2 separate regions of the Homo sapiens genome follow, and region 1 is linked to region 2. Evidence: fine-mapped expression QTL. A gene starts in region 2. The other region holds a variant in brackets. All regions are shown on one strand. Distances are from middle to middle. Region 1 overlaps DTHD1 (death domain containing 1). Region 2 holds the start of DTHD1 (death domain containing 1).

Region 1 (16,557 bases), 35 kb after region 2:
ACACAAGAAGGAAAATTGTACAAGAAAGCAAATTGGCTGTGTCTACAGCAGAAAGCAGAGTTAGAATATTAATACTATTTATGCTCACTACAATTATAAGTGCTTTAGAAATATTAATTCCTTTAATTCTATGATGTTGGTACTTGTATTAGTCCATTTTCATGCCACTGATAAAGACATACCCAAGACTGGATAATTTATAAAGAAAAAGAGGTTTAATGGACTCACAGTTCCATGTGGCTGGGGAGGCCTTGCAATCATGGTGGAAGGTGAAAGGCATGTCTTACATGGCAGAAGGCAAGAGAGAATGAGAGCCAAGCAAAAGGAGAGACCCCTTATAAAACCATCGTATCTCATGAGACTTATTCACTACCATGAGAACAGTATGGGGGGAAACTGCCCCCATGATTCAATTATCTCCTACCAGGTCCCTCTCACAACATCGCAACACGTGGGAATTATGGAAGCTACAGTTCAAAATGAGATTTGGATGGGAGCACAGCCAAACCATATCGGTACCATTATTATTTTCATATGATAGGTAAGAAAACAGACAGAAAGAAATCAAATAATTTGCCCATGGTCATACAGTTCATAAGAGGCAGAGTCACCCAGGCTTTGAAACTGGGCAGTTTTGCTCCTGGGTGTGTGCTCTTCCCTTTTTTGCTATACAACCACTCTTTGCTATTCTAGAGCATCTGGGTTTACATCAGCGAGTTTATTAATGTTTTTGGGTACTCTCTTAAATCTATTTTGCCAGTTGCAAAAAGCTTGTCATTCTCCAAAGCTCATCTCAAATATTAGCATTTTCACTTTGCAAGCTTCCCGAACCTCTTGCTTCTGCTCCTAAACCACCCTGTACGTTTCTTTAATTATCACACAAGTCACCTTGTGCTGTAATCAGATAATACTGTGTTACTACGTGCTTCTTTAGGGCAAGGGTTATATAGTTTGATCTCTGTGTTCCTGGTGCAAAGCATAATTCCTGGCACATAGTATGTACTTAATGAATTGTTATTAGATCATTCACAATGAAAGAATGAATGCATTAAATAAGATTTATATCATGTAAATTGTACCAATATCTCTTCTGTTACCATTATATAGGACAAAAATTGCCTCCATAAGAAAACCTAGGAAAAATGCCAGTGAATGTTTGAAATTACTGGGATTCAGAAGCCAAGACAGTGGTTGGTGTGGGCTTGATGATGTTGTGAAAACCATACAGAGCGGCTTGGTATCAGTTGAATTGTATGAACATTTGGAGAGGTAATACCATCAAAAACAATCAAAGTTGATGATACTCTTTCTGATGGTCATAACTGGTGTTTATAGAAATGGAATAGTAAGATTAAATTTTTATTCTTCGAATAGAAATATTAACCATTCTTTAAAGGGTACTTAAAATACAAACCAGAATTGACATGGGTATGCTATCTGTAATTTCATTTATGATAGTTAAACAAGTACTTTGGGAAAGCACTCATAACTACAGGTTTCTGCTAACTCCAAAATAGTTTTAAAATAGCACCTTCATTTCTGAAATACCATGGAGATAGTAATTAACTGTTCATATTATGCATATCTCATAACTATGTATAGATAAGCGGAATTTGTTACTTCAGTGCCCTCATTTTGCTTTCTCATTTCCATGTTTTCTAGACAGCCCATTATGAGAAGAGTTTTAGACAGATTTAAGGTTCATGAAGAGTAGCCACTCATAGAGACAGGTGATCATATATCTAAAAATAGCTTTTATTTCATAATGGGAAGTTTTACATTTATGATTGTCTTGAATCCAGTTTCCTAGGAATAGAGTCTGAGATGAAAAGCAAGTGATTTATTGAAAGAAAGCTCTTGGGTGAATCCTGTAGGGCAAAGGAGGAAGATGGAAAAAACCATGGTTTCAGATGAAGTATTTCTGTAGCCTGACACGCTCCGGGGAGCTCTGCAGTGCGAGTACCAAGGCGGCTGGCCTTACATCCCCACATTGGTCAGTCCTTGTCTATGGATGTAGGGCTGCTCTGGGTGAGGGCCTCTTTTAGGCCAAATCACTGAAGAAGAATTTGAGAATGGGTAGCCCAGTCCAGGGAAAGAGGTCTGTATTAGTTTGTTAAGGCTGCTCTAACAATGTACCACATACTGGTGGCTTAAACAACAGAAACTTATTGTTTCACAGTTCTGGAGGCCAGAAGTACAAAATCAAGGTGCTAGCAGGGTTTGTTCCTTCCAAGGGCTGTGAGGGAAGGATCTGCCCAGGCCTCTTTTCTTGGCTTGTAGATGGCCATCTTCATGGTCTCAGGGTGTTTTCTCTGTATGCATTTCTATGTGTTAAAATTTCCCTCTTTTATGACATCAGTCATACTGGATTAGAGAAGACCTTAACGACCTCACCTTAACCTGATTACTTCTGTAAAGTCCTTATCTCCAAATAAGGTCACATTCTGAGGTACTAGGGGATAGTACTTCAACATATGAATGTGTATGTGTGTGGGGAGGGTGAGACACAATGCAATTCCTACCAACGTCCATCCTAACGATCCTTCCCACCTACACAGAGATGCGTATTTTAATCCCCATTTAATTATGGTATACATTCTGCATCCTATGGAGTCAATAAATTATTGTGCTCATCTTTCTCTTCTATATTTTAAATATGCTCTTTTGTAATTCTAATTAAAATATCACTTAAAATATGCTGCCATGTTTAGAGCTGAGCTGAGACTGTATGACTTCTTCGTTTAAGAACATGTTTTAGAATTTATTTTGATTTCAGCTGGTTTCTTTTTTTATTTATTTCTTTTTTTACAGAGATTGAGTTTTGCCATGTTGCCCAGGCTGGTGTTGAACTTCTGGGCTCAAGCGATCCACCCTCCATGGCCTCCCAAAGTGCTGGGACGCCTCCCAAGTGGCATGAGCCACTGTGCCCAGCCTGAGCTGGTTTCTTGATGGCCAAGAGTTTCTTTACAATCATTAATGAATCTCACCTGTTGTCTTTGAGAATACTTGATTTTAAAAGACGTCTGTTTGATATGACTCTTTTCTTGGGTGTTATTAGATATCAGTGATGTTCTTGACACTGCATTTTTCCCTGGGGTCTCACCTCTTTCTTCCATGCAGGTTTATTGTACTTCACCTCTCTTCCACCATGGACAATAGTCATTTGGTTACTTTTGTGAAATCTTTAGAGGAAGCCATGCTCAGCACCACTGCCTGCATAGTACTGTCTCACCAGAAGGACAATCCACATAGAATAGCTGTTTTAGTGGTGCCTTCCAAAGATTTAAGCCAGGTGCTTAAGGACCTGCACTTGGAAGGGTTTGGAGGACCTCCAGAGCCATCTCGTCATTTCCAAGTTCGAGAAGGAGAACAACTTCTTTTAAGATTTACTGGAAACATATTTGCTTCAAGTAAGTATAAAGAAATCTTTTTATATATTTTATTGGCTATAAGCCACAAGCTCTTCAGAAGAGTTTGCTAAACTTGTGTTACTAAGGAAACCTTCAGAGGATTGACGAGAGACTTTAGGAAGTAGGAAGAGAAAAAGACTTATTTATTATACTTTTTTTGTTCCTATTTCTTTATTCTCTACTTAGGGAATGCATGTTCCTTTATGGGAAGATTCTAAGTGACACTTTTTAGAAATAGCCTTCTTCACAGTTACTATCTGAGTCCAAGCTAGGATTATCTCTTTCCTACAGGAGTAAAGTTGCCTTCTAAGTGCTTCCATTATTGGCCATATGAAATCAATTACCATGTGGTAATAAGAGTGATCATTTAAAAACATAAATCATACTATATTATACCAGTGATTACAACCTTATTTTTACCTCCTATTCTATCTAAAATAATATCCAAACTCTTTAAGATGTTTTACAAAGAATCTAACCTGGGGGTCAGTGGACTCCCAAAAATGTGTGAATAGATCTATATTTCAGTATTATTGCTATATTTTTTATTCCATGTATTTTATTTTATATTTTTCAAAGACTACTCTGAGAATCAATGGACAGTTTTCACCAAACTCTAAAGGAGTCTATGGGAAAAAAGAAATTAAGAATAATTGATCTAGGCTGGGTGTGTGGCTCACGCCTGTAATCCCAGCACTTTGGGAGGCTGAGGCAGGCAAATCACTTGAGGTCAGGTGTTTGAGACCAGCCTGGCCAACATAGTGAAACCTCGTCTCTATTCAAAATACACACAACACACACACACAAAAATTAGTCGGGTGTGGTGGCAGGTGCCTGTAATCCCAGCCGCTGGGAGGCTGAGGCAGGAGAATCACTTGAACCCGGGAGGCGGAGGTTGCAGGTTGCAGTGAGCCGAGATCGCAGGTTGCAGTGAGCCGAGATACCTTGCTTGCTTCTTTTCCCATATTTCTCTAGTGCTATTTTTGTTTTCACTCTAAATCTTACCACAATTTGAAATTATTTAATTAATTTATTTACTTTTTGTTCATATAGTTATGCTATGTCCTTTACCCTTCACCGGAATGAAAACTTCATGAGGGCAATGACCATGTCTTTCTTGTTAATATATCCTCTGAGCCTAACATAGGAACTGGTATATCCAAAACTTTTTTTTTCTTTACAAAATGCTTTATTTTTTATATCAACCCAACTAAACACTGACACCAGTAATGTATTACCAGTTATTGTACACTTTAATCAAATACACTGAAGAAATATCATTGACTGACAAATAAACTATCATCCTCATTTTTTCTGTACAATGTTTGATAGATTTATATCTAGAGAATGATTTCAACAACGAGTTTTTCAGCCCTTGTAGTCTCCAGTTTCTATTGTTGCCATCCTCATGTCCATGTGCACCTAAGGTTTAGCTCCCACTTATAAGAACATGCAGTATTAGGTTTTCTGTTTCTGCATTAATTTGCTTAGGATAATGACTTCTAGTTGCATCCATTTTGTTGCAAAGGACATGATTTTGTTCTTTTTTGTGGCTGCATGGTATTCCATGGTGTATATGTACCACATTTTCTTTATCCAGTCCACCATTGATGGGCACGTAAGTTGATTCCATGACTTTGCTATTGTAAATAGTGCTGCAGTGAACATGCAAGTGCTTTTGATAAGTGTGTAGTGAATGAATGATTATATGACAGTGATGAGGAAAGCAAGCAGGATGAATATGAGAGGTGGCAGGAGAGATTACAGAAGTGAAGGAATAGATGAGACTAAAGAGTTCAAAGGAAAGAGATGAAGAGAAAGAGAAAAGGAAGAAAAAGAACAAGAAGAGAAAACAGCTGTGTGGGAATAGAGAGGAAACGTCTTTGAAAGAGTTGCCATCACAACAATTTCTTTTTCATTAAGCCAACACCTTCCTCTTTCTAACTGCTTGCCCTGTGGTGGAATAGAATCAGACAGGTGTGTGTGTAAAAATGAGGTGAGAGGGAAAATTCCGGACAGGTTTTATGAAGATTTCTGTTCCAGGAGGCTTTCTACATACTTTACTTGAGGGGATGTGCTCCGTTTACTTATAAATTAATATGGATCCGATTTAATTTTATTATGCCTATTTTCTCTCTGATTCAGGAAATAGCTCCAAGCTTCATTGGTTCTTTTTTTGCTTCAAAAAAGGGACAAGGCTTGAAGCTGATGCTGCCCTCCCAGCTTTTTTGATATCTCAGGAATAAGTGAGACCTAAAGTGTCCCAATTTTAAGTGTCTATTCTACTGTCACATACAGGATCTCAGCATCTGAGCCAGCTGACGGGACTTAGTGAGCAAGTGACAAAGATGGCAGAGAAGGGGGCAGGGAAGAGAGAGGAGGGAGAGGAAGGAAGGGTGGAAGAGGCCCCTTCCTACTTGGCTTCCGGAGCAGAAACCACAGCGTCCACCCTGGAGAAATCTCTCTACTGAGACATAGTACTAAGCAGAAGGGTCCCACCCAAACGAATGATGCAAATGATTTTCCTGTAATACTGTGGACAGCAGCTGTGTTTACCAACCACCCTAAATAGGAGTGCATTACTGTTCTACTCACAAGCAGTGGTACTGAATATCCCACTGCCTGTTGTGGAGACCGGGGAGCACGTGCTAAACCAAGAGCGTCCAAGGCAGCCGTCACCTGTGCAATTCCTCCCTATAAGGGTTGGGGAAGAGTTCATCTTCATTCAGGGAAAATGAGCAGGCAGGATACCCAGATCCTGGGTTTGCTTTTCCTAGGGAGACAGGCTCAGATCTGGAGCCTCACTGGGTTTTTCTCTGCCTAAGAGGGAAAAGATCCTCAGTAAACAATTGATACCTCATCCTGGTAAAAGCATAGATCCATCCTTTTATCAGGGCCTAGCGTAGTCTCTGTGAATCTCAAAGAGATAAAGCTAGAGATTCTCTGCCTGGAGGGTTCTCCTCGCCCTCCCCACCCCCACCCTCACCCCCAGTTCTCTCCTGCTGTATCTTCAGATCTCACCTCAACTATCATGTTCTGAGAAGCTTTCTCTATCCTTCCTGATTATGTCAGACCTTATTTTATTTTTTAATAGTTCTATTATACTTTTGCAGATCCTCCTTTTTTCATTTGTGGCCTTTGTCACATGCAATTTTCTATTTTTTCATTTAATTGTTTGACCAATGCCAGTTTCTCCTACCATGGTCACATCCATGGAGGCACTGTCCTGCTGGTGGGCAGCATTCAGTCTCCATCCTATTGGAGGGCAGCATTCAGTCCCCAGCACCTAGGGCAGAGCCTGACAGTTAGAATAAACTCAGTATTCATTGAAAGAAATGAAGACCAAAGTTTAGAAAAAAAGCATTATAGTATTAAGTGCAATTAAAAGTATTTAAAACTTTAATTAATAAATTTAGATTACTGCCTTTGAGAAATGCCAAAATCTCTCTATTCACTTATAGAGAATATGAATGACTTTTCAGTGAAGGTCACAGGACATGGACTGTATTTCTATCTCTAATAGGAAGGAAGATGGATAGGTGCGTCCTTTGGTTTTTATGACGGTTTTTGGCATTCTTCTGGAAACAAGCTACAGCAAGCTTTCATTCTCTAGGTTAGAGTTGTCAGTTTAGCACTTGGATTATTGCATGTTATTCAAGCCCCAACTGCACACAAAATCCAGAAAGTGCCAGGAAGTGTTTTAATATGATTTTATATAATGACACCATGGCATCATCCATAACATCTAGTAATGCCCTGTGAGGTCTGCCTTTTAAAGTTGCCCTGAATGCCCTTTGGCCCAGGGAAGTGATTTTTCTAGATATTCTATAGGATGTATCTCTACATCTATCTCTACACCTATATAATAACCATTCTTTAATTTGCTCAACAAAAATTTGTTGATCTTAGGTATATTAAAGTCTAATGAAGAAAGACAGAGAATAAGCAAATAAGTAAATAAAATGCATAGCTTAATTTGGGCTGAAAAGTGAATTATAGAAGAATAAAGCAGGGAAAGGATAGGGGGACCTTAAAGGGTGTAGCAGGCTTGCAGTTTTATCTCAGGGAAGACCTTTCTGGAAAGGTGACAT[TA/T]AAAAAAAAAAAAAGTCTCTAAGCGGGTGAGGAAGCAAGCCATAATCCTATCTCAGGGAGTTTATCCCAGACAGAGGGATTGCCAGTGACACTGAACTCGGTGGCAACTTGCCTTGTGTGTATGAGGAACAATGGGAGCCTGAGATGGCTGGATCAGAGGGAGTGAGCACAGGTTGTGGGAGATGAGGTGAGAACTGATCATGCCTTGTAGGCCATTGGAAAGACTGCCTTTTCTGCTGAGTGATTTGGGGAAACATGAAGGGTTTTCAACAGAGAAGTGATCAGAGTTAGATTATAACTGCGTTGAGAATAGGCTTTAGAGCAAGAGGAGAAGCAAGGAGATCAGTTACTGTTTAATTGCAGTAAACCAGGCAAAAAATGGCATGGCTTAGAGGTAGAGCTGGTGGGGAATGGGTTACAATATAGAAATACACTGAGCCAGTGGTTCTCACAGGGTTTTTCTGGTTTCCCGGACTGCTAGCACTTTCAATTTTTTAAATATGACTTCCCTAAGCAAAAATATTTATTGTTACATTTGTATTTTCTATGTCATCAATGAAAAATATTTAATGCCCATTATTGAGAAGAAAATATATTGCTATAAGGGACAGCAGGTAATCCACAAAATATAAGTACATTCTGGAACTTTTTACATGACAAGTATTTACTAAATAGCTACTATCTCAAGACACTTCTAGGGGACTATATACTTAAGATATTGAGAAAAAGAAAAAGATTCTCAAAAGGTCAATTACTGGTTGATTTTACACTTTGGGTATGGAATGAATGAGTTTTTCTTTTATTTCTCCTTTAAATATGCCAGTGAGGGAGGAAAAAAAAAAAAAAACAGAGTAGTGCAGTTTCTTCATGCCACTTCTCTTTTTTTGGATTTATTTTTTGTTCAGGGGCCAGGAGTCTTTAAAATATATTATTATGCCTTAACAACAATGAAACTCCAACTTTCCAAAATTACATAATGGTTTCTGTTTACAACATGAAGATTATGCTATTTACTGCTAGTAAATCTTCAATAATTTCATCCCAACTACATATATAAATGTGATCTTTAGAGAGTTGCCCTAGAGGTCTTTAGTTTTAAAAATTGGTATACATTTTAGGTCTCAATTGAACCAGTGTGGCTATGCCTCACCCTCAACCCTTATATCCTCTGTGTAAACCATTTCTTATGAATAATTGTGCCCCCGGCAGAGAGTATAATGTCTTTCAAGGGATAGAAGGGGAAATTTACTAATTGGTATTCCACAGGGACCAAAGTAGTAAAAGTTTTCTTGACAGCACTCTAGTAGTATGGAAACAGAAGTTAGCCAGATGTTACTCCAGTGAGCTGGAAACCCCAATTTACCTAATTTACTATTTAGATAACATTTAAATGACCCCAAATAGTCTACTTTTTTTTTTTTAACCAAAGTGAGACACTCTTAAGAAGACAAACCCTGGCTACTCATTTGTCTCCTAGGAATCTGTTTTTTTTTTTTTTCTTTTTTTCCAAGTAGCCAGGTTGCCTCTCAAATATAAACTTTTGCAAAGGGATCTACTCCTACACCATCTGTAATCTGGAGTTATTCTATTTCTAGATTTAACTGAGCTTTAGAAAAATCACCAAAATGATCTCAAGCAGTCAGGACCGGGAGAAGGGTCATGGTATCTTCTACATCTCTCACTGAAGTCTTTGTTCACTGGGCAAAATGGAAAGTTTTCCATGAGGGAGAACTCTGGGCAGTCAACTGCATGCTGGCTTACAATAACCGAAGGAAGTTTCCATGTAGACATGAAAGCTAAATCTTGGCCAGGTGCGGTGGCTCATGCCTGTAATCCCAGCACTTTGGGAGGCCAAGGAGGGTGGATTGCTTGCCTTCAGGAGAGTTCGAGACCAGCCTGAGCAACATGGTAAAACCCCGTCTCTACAAAAAAAAAAAAAAAAAAAAATTACCCAGGCGTGGTGGCCCACATTTATAGTCCCAGCTGCTTGGGAGGCTGAGATGGGAGGACAGCTTGAGCTTGGGAGGTGGAGGTTTTAGTGAGCTGAGATTGTGCCACTGTGGAGCTGTGTCATTCCAGCCTGGGTGACAGAGTGAGGCTCAGTCTCAAAAAAAAAGAAAAGAAAAAAAGCTTCGTCTTGACATTTCTTTAAACAATCTGAGTTTTTTTTTTTTTTTTTTTTTTTGCATGCAAATTCCAAATAGTGGAAGAATCCTGCCTCTTATCATTTGCTATCATTGCTGTCATTTACTGAGCACTTACTGTGTGCCAGGCCCTATGACAATTATTTTATCCAAATTTTCTCATTTCATTTCCTAAACAATCCTAGAAGTTAAGCTTTATTTCTCCTGTTCTAAGGGTAAGGAAGCTAAGGGAAGCTCAGGCTCTAAGAAGCTCAGAGATATGAAAAACAATGGACAAGTATTAACAGATAAATATTACAGAATACACAAATCATAGAGGCTGCACTTGAACCTAGATCTATACATCCAAGACATATCATCTTAAGTGCTACATTATAGCTTCCTACAAATTTTACAAATTTTGATGTAGACATATATTGCCTTAGGAAACATGGTAGTGTTTATTCTACTGTTGAAATAACAACGTGAAATATCCTGATTGTCATGATAAAACCCCAGTAAGTGAAAGGTTATGTTCACAAAAGCTCTAGAATTTTCAGTAAGGAGTTGATAAAACATTTATATATTATCATTTTAGGAGAATCTGTCAGGTTTTCATAGAAATTTCAGTAACACAAATTCAATAACTATTACACCTGAAAGTTCTAGATCAACACTGTCCAATTCCACACTTGTGGAAATGTTTTATATCTGTGCTGTTCATTACGGTAGCCATTATGCCTATGCTGTCATTGAGACTTTTAAATGTGGGTAGACTGACTGAGGAGTTAAATTGAGTTTTATTTACTGTTCATTAATTTTCATTTAAACTTAAATTGCCACATGTTATAGGAGAGTGCAGTTCTAGAATGTCTATTGTGAGGTCACAATATGAATAGTTAGGGGAAAGGAAAAAGATAATTCTCAACGGGTGAAAATAATTTTCTAAATGCTGCAAAAGCTGAATATTTCAAGTAGTTTCTGGTTATATCAAAATGGAATAGAGAAAGAAAAGCTAAAGATTACTTGATTTAGAAGCAGCCAGAGAGCACCTGGCCCAACAACCGATGAGAAATCTTTCGAGTAATCTACATGGTCTCTGCCTATTGCTCCTTTGTCAGGTTATGTTTTGACAAAAGACAATGATACACAAAAGTTTTAATCGTATTTTTAAAATAAAATAATTATTTGGATTTTTTAAAATTAAGTAACACAAAGTGGCACATCTTTTTCGTTTGTTTGTTTGAGACGGAGTCTCCTTCTAGCGCCCAGGCTGGAGTGCAGTGGCGTGATCTCCGCTCACTGTAAGCACCGCCTCCTGGGTTCACGCCATTCTCCTGTCTCAGCCTCCCGAGTAGCTGGGAGTACAGGTGCCTGCCACCACGCCCGGTTAATTTTTTGTATTTTTAGTAGAGACGGGGTTTCACCATGTTAGCCAGGATGGTCTCGATCTCCTGACCTCGTGATCCGCCTGCCTCGGCCTCCCAAAGTGAGATAACTTAATGGTAATAAATACATTTTACTTCTATTTAGGCAACGGGAAGGATTATGGAAAAGACTACACACTTATTTTTCACTTGCAAAGAAAACCTAGGCTGGAACTCCAAATCAAAGAAGTGGACGAATTTGGAAACTATAGTTGCCCTCATTACAAAGGCACCATTGTCGTTTATAAAGTACCTAAAGGAAAGATAGTCCCCAACTTGAATCAATCTCTCGTAATTAATGAAAACCATTCTCAGTTGCCAATTTGCAAATTACCATTGAAATTGCCAAAGGTGAGTTATTTTACTTTTCTAATTACTACATTTTGTTAATTATTTATAATTCTGTAACACAATCAGTTTTTCAGTCATAGAGACACATACAGTTAAAAGAAAAGGTAAGAATAGAGGTAATAAAGAAGGAGTAGGTAGGTCCAATTTTAGAGTATTAGAAAACATGTTAGGATTTCTCCTTTTGTTCATATCAGCCTTTCTAACAAGAATGCTTCAGATTGGTCTGGTCCCCACAGCATGTTGTTGCTAACTATGAAAATAATGTCATTCATTTTCTGTAACTGCCTCTGAGTCACTGGAAAATCATTTATGAAAAAAATACATTACAGAGCACATCATTTTAAGGAAAAGTCATGGTGAAGAGAAAAATGACCTCAAAATATTTATACTGAAACTTACCAGATTCTGCATGGTTGTTTCATGAGTTATGTTTGCCTAAAATTCTTACTCATGTCAGAAAGTAGGATTAAATTATTTCTTTGAACATGTCAAACACACAAATAAATACATTTTATTGCTGTATATTACAGTTTATTTCAGTGAAACAGGACTTGGTGAATCTAAACTACCTTTTTAACAAGAAATATAACTGAAAAATTTACTTCATTAATCTTGAGGTAAAAACAAACTTCTTATTCTTTAAAGAAAGCTAAAATCATTTTCCCACATTTATATTTTTTGTCTATGACTAGCAGGAATGTGTTTTCCATGCGGTTAGATTTTGCACTGATTTAAAATAAATCATTAAAGTAATTTAGCAAATATTAATATTGAACTTCTGAAATAGGGGATGTGCTGCGCTAGGCTTTGTGATAAATACAGAGCTGTAAAGGATAATACATGCCCTAAAGCTGTGTTGTTCTGAATGGTCACTACTGCCCATATGTGGCTGTGGAGCACTTGAAATATGGCTAGTCTAAACTGAGATGGGCAGTAAGTTTAAGATACACACTGCATTTCAAAGACTCAGTACAAATAATATATAAACTATCTCATTAATAATTTGTTTACATAGACTACATGGTAAATTTATATTTTGGTTATATGAGGTTATATAAAATATATAAAAATTAACTTCCTCTTTTATTTTTTAAACATCTTAAATAGTTACTATTAATAGAATATTTTAAACTACATATGTATCTCAAATTATATGTCTATGGAATAGTGCTTCTCTAAATGAATTTATAATCCAGTGAATAAGTACACAAAACAATACACAAAATTACGTTGTAAAATAGTAACTGATTGAAGTTATATTTAGGTGATATAAACAGTGGTACTAATAGTTGGTACTAGATGGTACTAATAGTTGTTCAGAGAAGGGAAATGGCTTTTTTATAATCTGTAACCAGTAGAAGTTTTGTGGTGTTTGTGGCATTTTATCTGAGCTTTGTAAGTTGGTGGAAATTCAGACAGTGGAAATGAAGAAAAAAGGCAAGTTGGGGGAGAGAATATAATGCATTTGACCGGGGTGGTAAGCATAGCTTAGCAGGAATTCACAAGTTGTGTAATAACCATTGTAATAATGTCTAATATGCCAAAGGCCTTTCAAATACTTAACATGCATTGTATCACTAAACCCTCACAGAAATCCTATGATACATAATTGTTCTTATTTTATGGGAAACTGAGGCACAGAAATTTTAGGCAATTTGCCCAGGTTCTCATGGCTAAGTAAATGGCAGAGCTAAAATTCAGACCCAAGAAATCTGCTTCCTGTGTGTTGAATGGCTATTATGCTGTCACTTTGTTAGCACATAAAGCTAGGATTATTAGTCAAAGATACAAGATGGATTTTAGGGCATCCAGGTACACCTTTGATGTTGTATGATGTCTGTACTATGCTTTAGTACAGAGATAATATTAGAAATATTTAACAAATGATATGACCTGGACACCAACCAGTGAACTTGAAAGCAGCCCTCAGTACAGAGGAACAGTCTCCTGGCGACATTAACTTTACTTGCTGTTTTGGGGGAGATCCCGTGGTCCATGGGAAGCATGCATAAGTAGAGGAATTTATTAAGCCATTGATACTGAAAATGAGGCTTTGATGACAGTATAGCCAGCCAATCTGGTGTACATCTATCAGTTTTGCTTCTGTGCATTTTCTTTTTCTTTTCTTTTTTTTTTTTTTTTTTTTGAGACGGAGTCTCGCTCTGTCGCCCAGGCTGGAGTGCAGTGGCGCGATCTCGGCTCACTGCAAGCTCCGCCTCCTGGGTTGACGCCATTCTCCTGCCTCAGCCTCCCGAGTAGCTGGGACTACAGGCGCCCGCCACCACGCCCAGCTAATTTTTTGTATTTTTAGTAGAGACGGGGTTTCACCGTGTTAGCCAGGATGGTCTCAATCTCCTGACCTCGTGATCCGCCCGCCTCGGCCTCCCGAAGTGGTGGGATTACAGGCGTGAGCCACTATGCCTGGCCTCTTCTGTGCATTTTCATTTCCACCATAAGACTTTGCACCATACGGCCGTTACTTACGCATGCGGCAATTTTCCCTGAGATAGTCCCATAGCTGCTTCTTTATCATTCAGGGCTCAGCTCAGATGTCACTTGTTATTCTTATTCCCTTATCTTCTAATCTGAGGTCACTTTTTTAACTTGTTACCCTTTCTCGATTTACTTCCTAACACTCATCATTGATATTTTTAGATTTATTTGTTCATGTATTTTCTATTTTCCTTTGCTTCTTTAAAAAGCAAACTCCATGAATGAAGGACCCTGTCTATTCTATCCAGGTTCCTTCTTCTGTGATTAGAACAGTGCCTGGCACATAGTAGGCACCCTAAATATCTATGACTTGGTGAATAAGGGGAGGTCTATAGCTGTCTCCAGATTCTAAAAGTTTAAGAACTATTGACTTGAAGGAATACTCAAATTCTCTCTGTTCCGTAGTTTAGAGCCTGATTCTACAAACTCTTAACTGACAGGCTAAGGCATCGATGTGGATCAGCATGAAGATGTGGAGTGGAGAGGGGTACCTAAGGGCTGCTCTCCAGGCAGCTCAGCTGGCACATTGCTTCCAGAAAGCCTCACGTTGCTTTGCTGCCATAAGAGGATGAAAGGGAGACAAGCCAGTGGTGGTTGGAATTCTCTGGCAAGAGGCGGTAAGGGCCTTACTGAGATGATGGCAGACCATGCAAAGAAAGGCCGTTATGTCAGAGACGACAGACATGAAGTCCAAAAATGTGATAGGAATTCAGCTTTCACTTATTAGTGTTTCCTCTGTTGCCTGACTTTATAAAAGTAGCCAAATTAGTCAAGCCAAATTAGCCAACATAGATAATTTAGGGGTTTGTATAGATTTTCCTCAGTAAAAGTCTGTGTTTACGATTGTCCAGTACTTTTGCGTCAGCTTCTTCTCTGTTTTGCTTGTAACACACCATTCCTTACCTATGTGCCTGAGTAATTCTTACTGAACCTCTTTCACATCGGTGCTGAAGTGCAGCCTTGCCAAGGAAGCCTTCCCTCACTCCTCCTTTGTACCAGGTTAAGTGTTCCTGGTATATGGAGCTACGGCATTTTGTACTTTCCTTATCACTGTAGTTACCATATTTCATGACATCCACTTGCTTGTTTCCTTCCCTTGTTGCTGTAATGGCTTTTCAGGGAGTCTTTTTTTCTGAAATATTTTTTTTTCTAATCACCTCTCCTTGTGAAATTTTATTACCACGGATATACTGTATGTCTATGTACCATATATTTATCTGTGTTTTATACATCTGAAAGAGTAAGCCTTTTTGTGTCTCAGCCAAGAACGAATTTTCTCTCCCCAAGGGTGACATTACCAAAATTGAGAATGCATGCAACGAACTGCGCAGGCACAGACACTGTCCAGCTCAACTCTGTATTGCCAGTGCGGACACATAGTACATGCTTGATAAATATTTGTGACTAACTAGATGAACAAGATAATCTCTGCAAACCTTACAGTTACTCAACCTTGAAATTGATAATCCTGAAACTATATTGGCATGTTTAAAAATAGTACATTTAAACTTCTGCTGTCTTTCATAGATGAATCTACTGCCAATAGGCCATCTGTGCTTTCTTTTTATTCCAGATGGGTTCGTATAGGGCTTTCCAGATTCACTCTTTGAGCCCTTTCTTGTGCCCAAAGTCTTCAGAAATAAGTTTGTCAGGTTGAAAAAGAATCTGTGGCTGTGGGAACTTTTTTCTTTTCAAACTAGTATAACTAAATGGGAATTGAAACTATGACATTTAGTTTTGCAAGATGAGACTTATTTCATCAGAATTTAAAAAATTCACCTCAACTAAGCAGTATTAGAATGTGCTATTTTTCAGGAAATGGAAGTAGCCTAATATAGCAGTAGCTTGGCATTAATGAACATGACACTATGTGGATATTTATACATGTAGCATAAAATAGGTGAAGGTATTTGTCAAAATTAAAAGTGCTTCACAGAGAACAAACAGTAAATATTTACATATATGTATCTAGGCATAGAACCACACACATAATTATAATGTGTGATGTTAATATACTGTGTCTGATTCATAAAGATGAGAAGACATATCACTTTTTACTTCATACTTGTGAGGATCTCTGCGTCTCTTATTCTTCAGCCTCTGTAGTTCATTCATTCATATATTAATTAATTCAACAAACAGTGTATCCCAAAGGCTCAACGTATAGTGGTGTCCTGGTATGTAGGGTCTCATTTTTCCCTTTCTTCTTTATAGCATGTTTTCAACTCATAGGCAGAGTTATCCCTTAAAGCAGGAGTCCCCAGTCTCTGGGCCATGAAATGGTAGCAGTTCGTGGTCTGTTAGGAACCAGGAGGTGAACGTTGGGCAAGTGAGCAATGCTTCATCTGTATTTACAGCCACTCTGCATTGCTTGCATTACTGCCTGAGCTCTGCTTCCTATCAGATCAGTGGCGGCATTTGATCCTTGTAGGAGTGCAAACCCTATTGTGAAATTCACCTGCCAGGGATCTAGGTTGTGTGCTTCTTACAAGAATCTAATGCCTGATAATCTGTCACTGTCTCCCATCACCCCCAGCTGGGAACTTCTAGTTGCAGGAAAACAAGCTCAAGGCTCCCGCTGATTCTACATTATGGTATATAATTATTTCATTATATATTACAATATAATAATAATAGAAATAAAGAGCACAATAAATTTAA
Region 2 (15,211 bases):
TATTATTACTCTTGTACATTTGAAATAAGAGAAGTCCTCTAGTACTGAACATTCTGGCATATATTTCCTAGTACCATCGGTCCTTCTTAGGACATAATTGAGACACTGAGGAATTAAGTCCCTCAAGACACAAGGAAGCCACTTCCCACCAGAGGTTCTGACTTTATTGTACTATCCTGTATAATCACATGAATTCATATGGCACCATTACTGAAGTATAATGAGATCATTAACTCCTAAGCACCCAGTTTATTCTAGACTTTCAAAAATACAGACTGATTTAAGATTAAGAAGCAATTGCAACTATGTATTTGCAACAAAAGCAGTTATGAGAAGAGAGATGGGGAAAACAAATTGTATTATACTATTTAAGCTCGAATTTCCTTACTCTCACCCCCACCTGGACAAAATGGCTCTTATAACATCCACTGTCTATTAAAGTTTTTGCTTTTAAAACAAAATTAATATTCCTAAGAAACACAAATATAAAAGGTGATGTCTTTTTTTTTCCATTTCAAATATGGATCTGATTTTAAGACCTTATTTTCAAATGGCTCTCTCAGTGCTTTTGTAGGTAAGAGCCAAGAATTAAGAACAACCCTCATCTTGTGTGTTAGATAATACCACAGAGAGTTTCTCTATCCTCAGCTTTAACTCCTGTCTACTGACTAGACCTATTTAAGTTACCTAACCTGTTTAATGAGCTCCAAAAATAAATGTATATTATAGAGAAAACCAAAGGACACCCACTATTTACAGAGAAATGACACGGAGAGGGCATTTCTTCAATATGTGACCTAAATAACCCAAATCAGATTTAATTCAATATGGGAATCTGGGATTACATCGGAGCTGTTATCTGGGTCTGCCAGTAACTGCAATAACATCTTTAAACAGTAGCACAATCTTGGATAGACTCTGTCTAACAAAAATGACTTCTCCACTAGGATAGAAATTAATTCACCATTGCTCTCATTTTTATCACAAGGAGGTAAAATAAATTTTTAAAAATCAAATGCAGCTTCCTTGGAATGTTACAGCTAATTCTGAATTAAGAAATGAACTAGTTAGTAGTTATGTATTTCTGACAATGCTGAAAACAACATGCTTCTAATGATATCATTTCACATACAGACCTAACACATAGGCTGAGATGCACCTGGAAAGGCATCCCATAGAAGCTTCAGATTTTATTATTACAGGTTCATTCTTTAAAAATTCAAATAGGGCCTGGCACGGTGGCTCTTGGCATTTTGGGATGCCGAGGTGGGTGGATAATTTGAGTCCAGGAGTTTGAGACTGGCCTGGCCAACATGGCGAAACCCCCTTTTTACTAAAATTACAAAATTAGCCATGGGTGGTGTTGTGTCCCTGTAGTCCCAGCTACTCTGGTGGCTGAGGCATGAGAATCGCTTGAACCCCAGAAGAAGAGGTTGCAGTGAGCCAAGATTGTGCCACTGCACTCCAACCTGGGTGACACAGCGAGACTGTGTCAAAAAAAAAAATCAAATAATGCTGCTGAGGAGAATCAACACCTGCCAAGACTCTAATGCAAGTGGGTTTATTTGGGTGATTTTTGACAGATGACACAAGGCAGCAAGAGATAAAGGGTAACTTGGAAGATACGCTGAAAGGGGTAGATGGATGGGAAACATGGCCAGAAAGGAGATGTCGGTGATAATTTCATAATAAACATGCTAGCCTAGGGCCGGCCATGGCTGTTCCTCCCACCTATTGCCACTTGCTGAGGTTCTAGAATGTCCCTGAACCTGGTGATAAGAACAGTGATGAGGGGAAGTAAAGTAAAAAAGAAGATTGATAACATTTTCTCTTCTGATATTGGACATGGTTAATGCCTATAGTGGATATAAATAATGTAAGATAGTTGATAGCATAAGGTCAAATGTGTCAAGATAGCAACAGTCTAAGAGGGGAAATAGTTATACTCCTAAATAGCTTAATGTTGTCCATTTATAATATATATATATTCATTTTTCTGAGAAACAAATATTCTTGGAGGCTCATTGTATACAATGTCATCCTTTTAGTAATGATGAACACTATGGGGTCCTGAGGTATTCTCAGCTCATAGAAATTTAGCTGGAAGAGCTCAAATATTTCTAAAAAGCAACAAATTAGGCATTCTTTTGCATCATTTCCCTACTTCAAGATAGAGTTTTCTTGATGTTGAGGGTTGAGTTTATGCTGAATAATTTGATTCTTGCAAATTTATTTTTACAGTGCGAGGGATATTTCTGCTGACAATTCAACATTCAAAGGGATGAGTGTATGACGTCTCTAAGAGATGTCATGGAGTGCATGTAGAAGGGACTTTTTATGGAGGTAAGATGTAGAATAGGACAGTCATGTTTAATTGATGAATTTTGTTATGATTGTCCAGAAGTAAAACAGAGAACCTGGAAGTGATTTGGGAGGAATATGTTAGTGTCAACACATATGAGACCTTTTCTTTGTCTTCTTTTTAAAAAACTCTTTTTCATTCATGTGTTTCCTCTTTGTCTTTTTCAGAACTACTTCTCAAATCACTATTCACATCCTGGTAGAAGTCAAGCAATGAAGATGGCACAGAAACACATCCCAAATACTATGATACCATAAAGTATACTGTAGCAATGCATTGGCACACCCTCATTTGAACATTTGTCTCAGAAGATTTTGACAGAAGATAAAATTGTCTGGTTTTTATTTCATTGGTTTCATGAAAATTTATTTCACTGGTTTCATGTCACAGGCCCATGACTGTATAAAGAGTCATAATCTTTACAAACACAACAATGACTCACAGCGACATGTTGCAAAGCTGTAATCGAAAACACTGATGTTGATTTCAGAGGCCATTAATGGTGTTAAGAAGGCGCTTTTGTTAACCAAATAATTGAATACTCGTAATTACTTTTCAGTTCTAGTTCAGTTCTTGACACCAAAACAAGCCATTTTCTTTACATAGTGAATGCAGAACTTGCCAGTAAGAACTTTCATACTAAACTTCTATGTAAAACAAAACATGTCAAAATCAGTAACTACTTTAATGGAATGGTAAAGAATTTACTTAAACACAAAGGAATGAAAATATCTCTGCAAATATGTCTATTGACTTTTCAAATTTGGTGACTTCTTTCGAATTAATTCCCTTACGTCTGTTCCTCATCCACATAAAAATGACAAAAATGAAAGATAATTTTCCAGCCTATAATTAAATTTCTCCATTGTTGGTATATGTTTTTTCAAATACATTTTTCAGTTTTCATAATTCATATGAGAATTATTAAAAGGGAGTTAGTTGCCTTTAGGACCTTATTTGGAGCCTAATTCTTAAAAATTGTGTAAAAATAATTGTGACTTTTAAGAGACAATTGGAAATTTGAACCTGACCACATTTTTGTGATATTAAGGAATTTTATTAATTATTTTCTAGGTGGGGGAATGATATGATGATATTCTTAAAATAATGTGTGGATTGTTTATTACATTTCAACATTTTCTTAATCATCAAACATTTGTTGACCTTCTGCTGTATCTAGAGCTCTGTGATCGGGATGAAGTATGAGATATTAAGCCATTACCAGGTGGTAGTTACTCTACCTCTGTTTGAAGTTCATGCCCAGCCCATTTGTTGCTTTAAATTTGAGTTCATTCTTGAGCATGTGCCACCAAATTCCAAGCATTTTCAAATGGTGAATTACTTCTTACAAACTCAACGGAGTGTATGTTAGCCGATCTGAAGTAACCCACTTGAAGTGATGCGCTGTGTCAACCTTAATATCACCATCAAATGATCCCTAGGGAATGCAACATTTGGCTTATTTCATTTTTAACATGTGAATTTAGTTTATATCAAAGTAATATAATACACATAGTTTAAAAAAATCATATAGTATGACAACAACTTGAAAGAAAAGCAACAGATCCTTGCAGGTTGCTCTTCTTCCTCCCCAAGTACCTGAGCATCTGTCATTGTCCTCCAGCATAAGGCCGTCAGGAGCACACCTATAATTGAATAAGCAGGACTCACTACCCATTTCAGTGAGGGAAAACTCACACCACAGAGAATCCTGGGGTGTCTCAGGTGAAGGATGTTAAAAGGGACTTATAACAGGATTTGGGCTTTGGTTGGGTGACTCGACGGAAGTTTCCCGCTCTGAATTGGATGCTCTCTAAAAGTGGTTATAATCTGTGATTGGGTATCTCGATAAGTCTTATCCTTAGAGAGGGCAGACTAGAGTAATGCTAAAGATGCAATTGTTAAGAAGCAGTCCTCATTCGTATTAGCTGAGAGAGGGGAATGTTTCGTATTTTGTGGCTTGAACAATGCTCATGTGTTTAGACATGATTGTAGAGTGATTTTCAATTTGTTTTGATCCATCATAGTGCTGATGTCATGTTAATTTTTTTTTTAATGTTCAACAGAATACTAACACCTAGCTGTGAGTACCAGGACAGCTGGTAGCAACCCCAAGGCTTTGCTGGTAGTGCCAGGCTAGCTCCTGGAAGTCAGAAGTTGCTTTGTTCTTTCCCATGTCTTTTCCCAGAGGCAATCACATTAAACCTTTTAGAAGTTTCTTCTGGCACTTACCTCCAGATTCCTAATAGTTTTTCTTTGTTTTTAAATGTTTGATTTATTTTTAAATATTTGACTTCCTGCTATAGAAATAAGACTTTTTGCTCTCTTGTATCCACCCTGCTATACACATTTGCTATGTACATACCTCCTATACTCGTCCTAATAATACACATGTATCAGAATTTTTATTTTATTTTTATTTATTTTTTTTTTGAGACAGAGTCTCACTCTGTCGCCCAGGCTGGATGGAGTGCAGTGGCGCGACCTCGGCTCACTGCAATCTCTGCCTCCTGGGTTCACACCATTCTCCTGCCTCAGCCTCCCAAGTAGCTGGGACTACAGGTGCTCACCACCACACCCGGCTAAGTTTTTGTGTTTTTAGTAGAGGCAGGGTTTCACCGTGTTAGCCAGGACGGTCTCGATCTCCTGACCTCGTGATCCGCCCGCCTCAGCCTCCCAAAGTGCTGGGATTACAGGCGTGAGCCACCGCGCCCAGCCCACAATTTTTATTTTAAAGTAATTATAAACGTCTTTATTACCGTGGCTGTATAAATATTATTCATAACAGAACTATGCAATACACTATAATTATATATCCTTTTCTTTACAATTTAGTTTTTCCCAGTTTTAATAATTGTCTTTTGTTTCTGTTGCTAAATTATCAACAATTCTTTTCCTCAATTCTCTAATAGAATTGTAAAACTTCTCTTAAAATGTTTAAAACATCAGCTAATTCATGAGTTCCATTTTTTCTGCTTGCAGACAGACTTCTGAAACACTCAGGTGACTGCTGCAGTCTGGAATGGGGGCTTTCTAGGGCCACAGCATTGCTGTCACCCTGGGACTTCATCTAAAGCATTTGATTTAGCTCTCTCTCTTTTGCTGGATTTTCCATTTCCTGACTCGTATGTCTGCGTTTTTCTTGTGTCATTCTGTTTCTTGTGATAGAGTTCATCTGTGAGTAGCTTCCCAAAAATGGGTACACAGGAGATAAGTAGTTTGACATTTGCATACTCGAAATGCCCTTTCTTTCTCGGCACACCTGAATGATGCTTTGGCATTTGGCATTTGGCAACAGAATCCTGGATTGGAAAGAGGCTTCCCTCAGAATATTGAAATCACAACTCATTATTTGCTAGGTCTTAGTGTTGCTGTTGAGAAGTTCAATGCCTTTTGATTTAAATGTGACAGTTTTTTCCCTCTTTGGAGGCTACTGGAATGTTGATCCTTGGTGTGAATTTGATATGACTGGTTATGATTATTTTTTGTATATACTGTTCTGGGCTCTTTCTGTCTAGAATATCATATACTTTAATTCTGAGAAATATTTCGATATTATTTCTTTGATAATTTCATTCATTCTACTTTCTCTTTCCAGAACTCATATTAGTGGGACCACTTGGATTTAACCTTTAATTTTCTTAACCTCCATTTTACCCCTATTGTCCATCTCTTTGTCTTTTTGTTTGATGTTTTTGGGAATTTACTCAACCGCTTTTTCTTTCCCATATTAAGAAAATTCTATTATCATAATTTAATTTCTGTGAGTCCTTTCTCATTGCCAGAATGCTCCCCTTTTAAAGAAAATATTTTCGGCCTGGCTTGGTGGCTCACGCCTGTAATCCCAGCACTTTGGGAGGCCGAGGCAGGCTGATCACGAGGTCAGGAGTTCAAGACCATCCTGGCTAACACAGTGAAACCCCGTCTCTACTAAAAATACAAAAAATTAGCCGGGCGTGGTGGCAGGCGCCTGTAGTCCCAGCTACTCAGGAGGCTGAGGCAGGAGAATGGCATGAACCTGGGAGACGGAGGTTGCAGTGAGCTGAGATTGCAACACTGCTCTCCAGCCTGGGCAACAGAGTGAGACTCTGTCTCAAAAAAAAAAAAAGAAAATATTTTCTTGTCTTGTGAGTGCATTATTTCTTCTTATCCTAGACTCTGAACATGCTAATTATAGATTGATTTGATATTTTCCTCTTCCCTGTGTTTGTTCTCTTGTTTTTTTTCCCAAGTTCTTTATTTTTGTTTGTTTACTTTAGTCTCTAGCTTTATATTAGAGGCTTTTTCAAATGCCTGACCTCGTTGGTTGTTATTCCACTTAAAGTGAGGCATGAAGAGCCTAGTTTGGAAGCTTTATATGATGCAGAGCTTCACTGTGGATGATCTGGCGGGGGCAGACCAGGCTTGTGGGGTTGGAAATAGGGAGAGGGACACTGAAAGTTTCACTATCAGTAGGTTTTTCTCATGGAGTGTTCAGTTACTCCATGGAGGAAACTTTCCATTTTCTGCCTGGAAGGTTATGCTTCCCAGCTCGTGTTCTTGGAGTTGAGCAGAAGAATAGAGCAGCACCTCATAATAGAATTTCACTTAACCCTCATGGTCAGCATAGCACCCCCTCCAGTTCTCTGCTCTGCTGAGTGTTGCTGCCACGATTTATTCATAGAGAAAGTCTCTAGCTTCTGATGTGTGGGAGAGAGATTGTTGCCTGGTTCTTTGGGGCAGAAGCGAGGTATCTGGGAATCTACCTGCTCTCCAAACAGAGTTTCAGCAAAAACACCTGTTTACAGCCCTAAGTTCATCTTTACTTTCAGAGGTCCTAACTTTCTCTTATTCCGGGAACTTCTGAGATTCTGTGACAAGAACTCACCTGTTTTCCACTGTCTGGGTGCCTAGGTTTCAGCCCTGTTTGATTATTTGCTACTTGCCCATCTGCTTTTAGTCTTCCAGGAGTTTGTTGACGTCTTTTGTCTATCATTTTATTGCCCATTCTCTTTATCTTTTGGGATTTATATATTGTTTTATCCTTTTCAGGGCATCTCACTAGAAATCAGAGATGGAATATATATCTAGTCTACTTTGTTTAATCAGAAGTGCTAGCTTTGATTTTTACCATGTGGTCTTTGAAAACATTTTCAAATTGGTAAGTACATTAAAAATTTGAATATATAATTTATATTTTACTAGTCCAAAAGTTACTAAAGAAAACAAAAACAAAACAAAAAGAAAATTTCTTTTCCTTCTCCATCCACTCATCATCCAAATGCATGAGTTTATCTTAAACAGGGAAAAGATGACCAGACATTGAATATGAATGTTCAAAAGGGGAAAAATTATTCTGGACTGTAAGTACCAAAGTCTCTGATGTAGGCAACTACAGAAATTCAATGAAAATAAAATCACATTATAGAACTAATAACATTGGCTCATAATACTTCAGGCATACATAACTCTTTTGCTTACATCTAACCTACCCACCACTACCCACTATAAATGCCATGAAAAATAGCAGTCTTCATTATGCTTTAAAACTTTATTGTCTTCACAACCTTTGCAATTAATAGCCTGTCATTAATAGCCTGTCCAATCAACTGCATATTTTTATTTCTTTAGGTACTAAACAAAGAACTATCCTACTATTTGAATTTTATCTCTAATCCACTCTGATACTTTTAATGTTAAGAAAAACTGTTGTCTTTTTGACCACATAATGGTATGAATTCAAGACTGCATACTAACGTCAATGGAAGCACTGAATTTTCAGTAAGAAAGTAAAAGGAGTCATAATAACTAGTAGCAACAATGAAGATGACAATCAAATGTTAAAATCATCCAGATGAATTTCTGCAGTGAACTTCTGTAGGTGTCTTGACTGCAAATGTCTGTTCTTTCTGTGGTTAGTGACATCAATTAATGGAAAATAAGGTGCAGGAACATGCTGATGCGTGTTTTAACAAGTAAATGCAGTGTGGCCTGTGGTAGGTCTCACTTTGCAAATATTATATGTTCTTAAGAAGCCAAACAGAGAACAAGTTTAAACTTGAGGATAGCAAATGTGAATGAAACAAAGAGAATGTCTGGGTTTGTTTTTTTCTTCCTGAGAAAGGATTTTCCCACATATCTAGAAATAAATGTAGACTGCTCAAATGATCAAGCAGTATTTCATTATCAGTTTTATTCAATACTTAAAATGTGCATGGTAAATTCTCCATTGATCTCTTCTACTTCCAGGGATTCATTTACCACTTATTTACTGGTAACATTCAAATATGCCAATATTATTCTAATTTTTAAACTTAAAACACATTCTAAGGAATTTTTCTGAGTTACCTCAAACTCAACAAATCTAAAATTAAATTATCTACCCATCGAGCCCAAAATCCCACTTAAATTCCTTAATAGTCTTATAGTCTATGTAATCACCTAAATTAAATATTTCAGTCATATTCTAATACTAAGCATAGTTCTTATACTAGTGGTCAATAAATATTTCTCAAATAAATGAATGCATTTTCAATACTTTCTATTCCTCTCCCTATAATCTGATGGTTTGGTAAGTTTAGTAAGTTCTATCCACTGTACTTCAAATCCCCTCTCACGCCATCCCCTTCTCTCATCTGCTCTGTTGCTGTTTTATACAGACCTTCGAGCCTCCTAACTCTTATATCTCTGTCATCTAATACATCTGCATCTCTACAGCACAGATTTCATCACATTGCAGTCTGATTCAAATATATTCAATTTCTGTCTTATCTGTAAACCAAAATTCTAATTTCTTCTCCTCACTATCTACAATTACTGAACTCTTCATTTGTCACCTCTGACTCGTTAACTGAACCTTCCTCCAAAGCCATACTTTTACATTTTTGATCCTACTGTGTAATCTCATGCCTCCGTGACTTTGATCATATTATTTCCTATGCTGGAATATTTTTTTTCTTTTACTCCATAGCCTGCTTATCCTTTAGTTTCTAATTCAAACATTTTCCAGGCCTCTAAGCAGAATTATTTTTTTAACTCCTCAAAGCTTTTATGATACTTTTTCTTTATACTTCTGCTCTAGCTCTCAACACAGACTAAGCTTTATTTCAATAATCTGTTCATGCATCTGTCTCTTGAAATCCTAAAAAGGCCTGACCTCCAGCACTTAGTTCCTGTCCCACAGTAAATGCTATAGGAAGTTTTCAAAATTAGCATTGAATTAAAGCCATGTGTACATTATTATTGAGAATGACACATCCATTTAAGGAGTAAGAAAAGAAAATAGAATTGAATGAGTGAGTCTTTAGTTTGAGAAGATTTAAATGATCCAATCCATGAAGTGATATGAACTCATACTGCGAAAAAGGTCCCCTTTTCAGTGAACAGAAGTTAACTGAAAAATAAGACACTTAGTGGTGAAGGAGCCCCTCTCCACTCTGCAGCCACCAGTACTCAATACTGCTCCTTTCCTTCAGGGTCTTTGACAGTCTTTAGGGCAGTGGCAGTCATTCTTCATTATTTATTCTCTGGGCTTGTTTTTCCCATCTTGTCTTCCAGGTGCCCTGAGTGTAGCTCTTAGAACTCCAGGGCTTAAGATGAGATAATGTGTTGCCTGTGGGAGGGAAGCACTCCGGCTTCCACTTGAAAAGCTTTCATTTTGTTCCAGTACCCGAGGGAACATGAGCCTCTCTGGAATGTACTTGCTGCCCTCTTCCTTTGGCTTAGGTGTGTGTTCTCTCTGAGCAGTGGGATTGGAGAGAGGGAGGCAGACTGTTCTGGTTTCCTCCAAATACCCGCAAGTGCTGCATTGCATAGCCCCATATATGATGCGCTGGCAGGCAGATGGGCAGCAGTGGGGAGAGCTTGTTGTATCTGAATTTTAATTACATATGGTAAAGAATCCTTGCTAGTTTAGAGAAAGCTACTCTTCAGGTTTACTTTCTTTCAGTGAAGGGGCATTTTATCCAATTAGAGGGAAATTATCAGAGGCCAAGTTCTTATCTCAGTCTCTGCAGATTTACCACATAAGAAGATGCTAATTATAACTTCCTAACCAATGCAATAGGCTCTGCTCCAGTAGAGGAATCTTTTTAAACTCTTGGTTATAAAAATACTATACATATACACATTAATTAGAGTGAATTGTCAAGACCCCATGTGTAAACATATCCAGCTTCAACATTTATTAATTCTTACAGCAAATTTTATACCTCTACCCACCCCTATGCTCCCTGATTATTTAGAAGCAAAATCAGACATCACATTATTTCATTCATAAATATTTTTAAGTTTACAGGAATCCTGCCAGCAATATTGTTCATACAGTTTACCTTTGATTAATAAACTTCTTACCCTACCTGGAATCTGTATTTTGTTGCCTCAAAACTTGAAAAGTATTTGGTACTTCCACAGTATATTGAATTTGTAAAACTTACACAGAGAGTTGGATCATGTGAGTCAGCTCTACCCCAGTGATTAATGTATTCTGTACACAGTAGCACCCATGGTACAGGAACGCCCCTTCTTCGGTCACCTAGTAACTTTTCACTAGTCAACACCAAACTGAATAACCACTATGTTGTGAGAAAGTGCTGGGCTAGCTGACTCGGATCATCTCCTAGAGTTTAGGAGAAATAACAATCACAAAGTTTGAATTTGCAAAACCTTTAGGCTTTGCTGGCAGGAGAGAAAATACCACTTTTGGATCATAAAATGGATATGGAATACATGGGCTCAGGTAAACTGGGCCAAATATTGAAGCAGATTTGGAGACAAAACCAGATGCTAAAGCAGGCACTCTTGGGTGATGACCTTTGTGAGGGGGCTGGTGGGGCCACTTGGATGGCCACTGTGGTCTTTCTGGGTCAGGAACTCAGCAGTGCCCTTCACCAGCTGCTGGAGCACACCTCAGGCACCCTGCGTTCCACCTGCCAGCAGCTGCATGTGCTGCTTGACAAAGAGAATCAATGTGTCTCGAGAAAAGGCAAGTATTCTTTTTTTTAGTTTATTCTTTCTCTAAGAAATATTGATTAGGGCAAGATCTGAGAGGGGCTATGAGTATACCAGATAGGCTAAGATAGAGTTTCTGTCCACAAGAGACTAACAATTTCAAAGGGGAAATAAGTTGAGACAAATGCACAATAATGCCAGGGACATTGGGGCCAGTCCCATTAGAAACACATGAATGAAGTGCTTTTGGACTTCAGAAGCAGTTTAAATCCCATCTGTAGGGTGGGGAATTGAGAAGTTTGCTAGAAAAATGTAGTATTTAAGCTGAAGCTTAAAGAGTGAATTGGATTTATGCAGCAGGAAAGAGAGAGTCGGTAATTTTAGTAGGATCCAAGACTTAGAGACAGGAAAATACAGGCCACTGAGGCAGAGCTAGTAGTTTGTTTTTTATATCAGAATATAGTATTCTATCTCTAGGGTCATTTGAGCTTAGCCTTATTGATTGCAAAATTACTGGGAAGACTGGAGTGGGTTGGGATAGGGAATTGGATCCCCATGCACTGGGGCTGGAGAGGGATTCTTGGGAATAGGTCCAGTTATGGATGTGGAAAAGTACAGTAAGGCAGGAAGAATGTGGAATCTGATGAATATAATCCTAGATAACAACAGTTACTCCAGATAAGCATATAGGTGGCATCATGAAATTCAACTCTAAATAATACAGTATCAAGATAAGTGGGCAGGTTCCATCTATGAGGAAATCCAGGGTAGATGATGTTAAGAAATTCAATCTAAAGGGCAAATAGTGGGCATCAGGGAAATCTGTCTAAAGGCAGCATGACTGAGAAGCCATCAGCTGCAGCCCACAATGAGACCTTTAGCCTCTGGAGGGAGTGGAACATGGTCTTTGGCAATATAACAAGCAAATATATATTCAGAAAAAAACAAGGACTTGGTTACCAGAATAGGAGTTAAAAATAAAGACAAGTTCTCAGGTATAAGACAAAAACAAAACAAAACAAAACACAAGTTGTCAGAACTGGATCCCAAAGAAAAGCCCTGACTGGTGAAGGGATGATTTGGTGATGGCTTTAAAAACACTAAGCTATGGGGCCTTAAATTACCTATTCTTTAGTTCAGAACTGAATTCTAAAGACTAGAGAGGTACTAAGCCTGCAAGAAGTCATCAGGTGACCTCAGTAGTGAGGAGAAGCAGGATGAACAAATAGGAGAGTGGGAAGAATGATGACGGAGTGAGAGATTATATAAGATTTGATCATGCTAAGAGTTTACTTCAGAGTGAAGAAGGTTGACCTGAGTTAGTAGGCTTTGAGTAGCCACTTCAGGTTCCAATCAGAGAATTGGTATGGTCAGAGCTATTCTCTGAAGGACTAATTTGAAAATTTCCAATGCTCACAAATTCATCAGGAGGAATAGTATAAACCTAATCCAATTCTTATAGCAGTAAACTAGGCTCCAAAACAAAGCATCTACATTGGCAGAAATAATGGAGGTATGGTGTTTCTGCCACCCAAGCCTCATCTGGAGTGTTCGCCTAATTTTCAGCCCAGCATTTTAAATGGATCATTGATAAACTATTGTACATCCAGTGGTAAAAGAAGAGTTCTCAAAATCATACCAAATGAAAAACAATTGAGGGAGATGTTGACTTCAGTTCTTATTGGGGGAGCAAGAGGTTATGACATTTGTCTTTAAATATTCGAAGTATCTTTATAAGCAAGAGGGATTAGATTTACTCTTTGCTACCATGTTAAAAATGGTTTGTTGTCAATCCTACAATTGTTAAAAGAGTGACAGTTATACAATTACTTCTCCTTCAGGAGTTTGGCTTAAATGCACAGTAAAGGTCTTTGTAGGTTTCTAAAATTATCTTGCCATGTTTCATTAGATGTCAGTGCAGAAACATAATTTGGTTTAGTTTTGTATTTATTCTTTGTGTGTCCATGTATGTGTGTGTAGAAATCATTACTTTCATAGACTGCCTCATAAAAATAACTGAACATTTGGGGAGCACTGCTGCACTTCTAAAGAAAGAAGAAAAGGAGATTTGTAATTTATGCGGCATGCATGATGAATGTACTCCACAGCAGACAATGTCCTCCATTCAAGATACCAAAGCAGCAGACATTGCTGCAAGAGGGGAACTAAATGTCATAGAAACAGCTACTGTTTCTCCCACAAATGGAGAGGAAAGTCATTACACAAACCAGGTCCAGTTAGAAAAAAATAAAACACATATGAGTTCAGCATTAGTGGAAAAAGAAAACAATACATCACTGAATGGACGTGTACTGGGGCAAGAAGAGTCACAGAATAAAATGTTCCCAGATAATGCAGAAAATGAAGATGATAAACAAATAGAACACATGACTGTTGAGAACATAAATGGCAACAGGGAAGAGACTCATGGCATAATTCAGACAACAGAGACAGAAATTCAAGAGACTTCAGAAAGCCCAAGAGAAGAGATGACCACATCCTCAATAATATGTGATATCTCCAAGAAATATATAAATAGTACTCTTCCCAATGATTCAGAGAATATAAAGCACAAGAATAACATAATGGAAAAGGAGTAAGTAAATGCAATGTGGGAAGTGCTTAAGTATGCCTACTTATATGTGTGTTTCTATAGTTAGTACATGTCTTAGTTCATTCAGGCTGCTACAACAAAACATCATAAAGTGAGTAGCTTTTAAACAACAGATATTTATCTCTCACAGTTCTGGAGGCTTGGAAATCCAAAATCAAGGTGCTAGCAGATTTGGTGTCTGGTGAGGGCTTTCTGGTTCATAGAAGGTGCCTTCTTGCTGTGTCCTCACATGGTGGAAAAAGTGAACAAGCTCCCTTGGGCCTGCTTTATAAAGACATTAATCTCATTCATGAGGGCTCCACCCTCATGACCTAATCATATCCCAAAAGGACCCACCTCCTAATACCATCACCTTGGGGGTCAGGATTTCAATGCATGAATTTTGAGGAGACACAAACAGTTAGACTATAGCAACATGCATAGTATTTCCATTTCATACCTCCCAAAGATATTGTAATCAGTAATTCAGCTTAAATCACTCCTATAAAAATTTATATGGCCACTATTATTAATATTGTTTATTTCTTATAGCTTTAAGAAACAAACACATTACATTTTTTTAAAGAGGAAGGAATTGAGTAGATACGAAAGTAGTTAAAATGAGCAATTGTCCAGATCATGAATACTTTGCAAATTACTACGAGTTCAAATATAATAAGAAAAACTAGAAGACTGTAGGGTGTTAGAAGATTTGGAGAGAATGTTTTAGCCTCAGATTCACTTTATTTATATTCTCAAGAAAATCATTATGAGTTTTAAACCCGTGTCTGTAGAACTCTAGGGATTTTATGGATGAGCTTTGGGAGGTACTTAAAATTGAATGTGTATGTTCAGACCTATTTCATTTCCTTGGATATGGTCTAGAACTGTCATCAGATTCTCTAGGAGACCATAACTTCAAAAAAGTGAGAAAGACCAATCTATTTTATAAATTTTCTCTCCTGTGCAAAGAGGTAATAAGGCCCTATTTGTCCGTATAAAATAAGATATTCACAGACCATATTTTCCCAGACAAACATAACACGCTTAGAAGTGAAAAAAAAAAATATGTGTTTTGGGCATCAGACAAACTTAAATTTCACTTTCTGTTTTATTACATACTAATTCTGTGACCCTGGGCAACTTGCTTCATTTCTCAGCCTAATTTACTTATTTGTAGAAATAATATATACATCCTGGGATTATTTGGTAAGGTCAAATGAGAAAATCACTTAAACGACCTAACACCAGGCCACTTTTTCAGATATTCACACCAGGTAAATGTTAGTCTATTCATTTATTTTAGCTCCAAAAACTCTCACTTTCTT

Evidence for each region. PIP is the estimated chance that this variant, and not a neighbour inherited with it, causes the effect. A credible set is the group of variants that fine-mapping cannot tell apart.
Region 1: its variant is the best candidate, but not a certain one, in a credible set for the expression of DTHD1 in whole blood (INTERVAL, PIP 0.64).

The regions. Positions count from the first base shown.
Region 1 is chr4:36,305,084-36,321,640 of GRCh38, forward strand. DTHD1 (death domain containing 1) reads left to right here. Exons shown (of 10, transcript NM_001170700.3): 6 at 1,108-1,269; 7 at 3,121-3,410; 8 at 11,159-11,403. Among named protein-coding and RNA genes, the nearest start is that of DTHD1, 32 kb to the left of the region's middle. The variant TA/T (reference allele first, on the strand shown) is at 7,502.
Region 2 is chr4:36,270,706-36,285,916 of GRCh38, forward strand. DTHD1 (death domain containing 1) reads left to right here and starts at 10,911. Exons shown (of 10, transcript NM_001170700.3): 1 at 10,911-11,324; 2 at 13,271-13,886. The coding sequence starts at 11,054. It overlaps LOC439933 (a long non-coding RNA gene), which reads left to right. Exons shown (of 5, transcript NR_122079.1): 4 at 2,242-2,343; 5 at 2,530-3,510.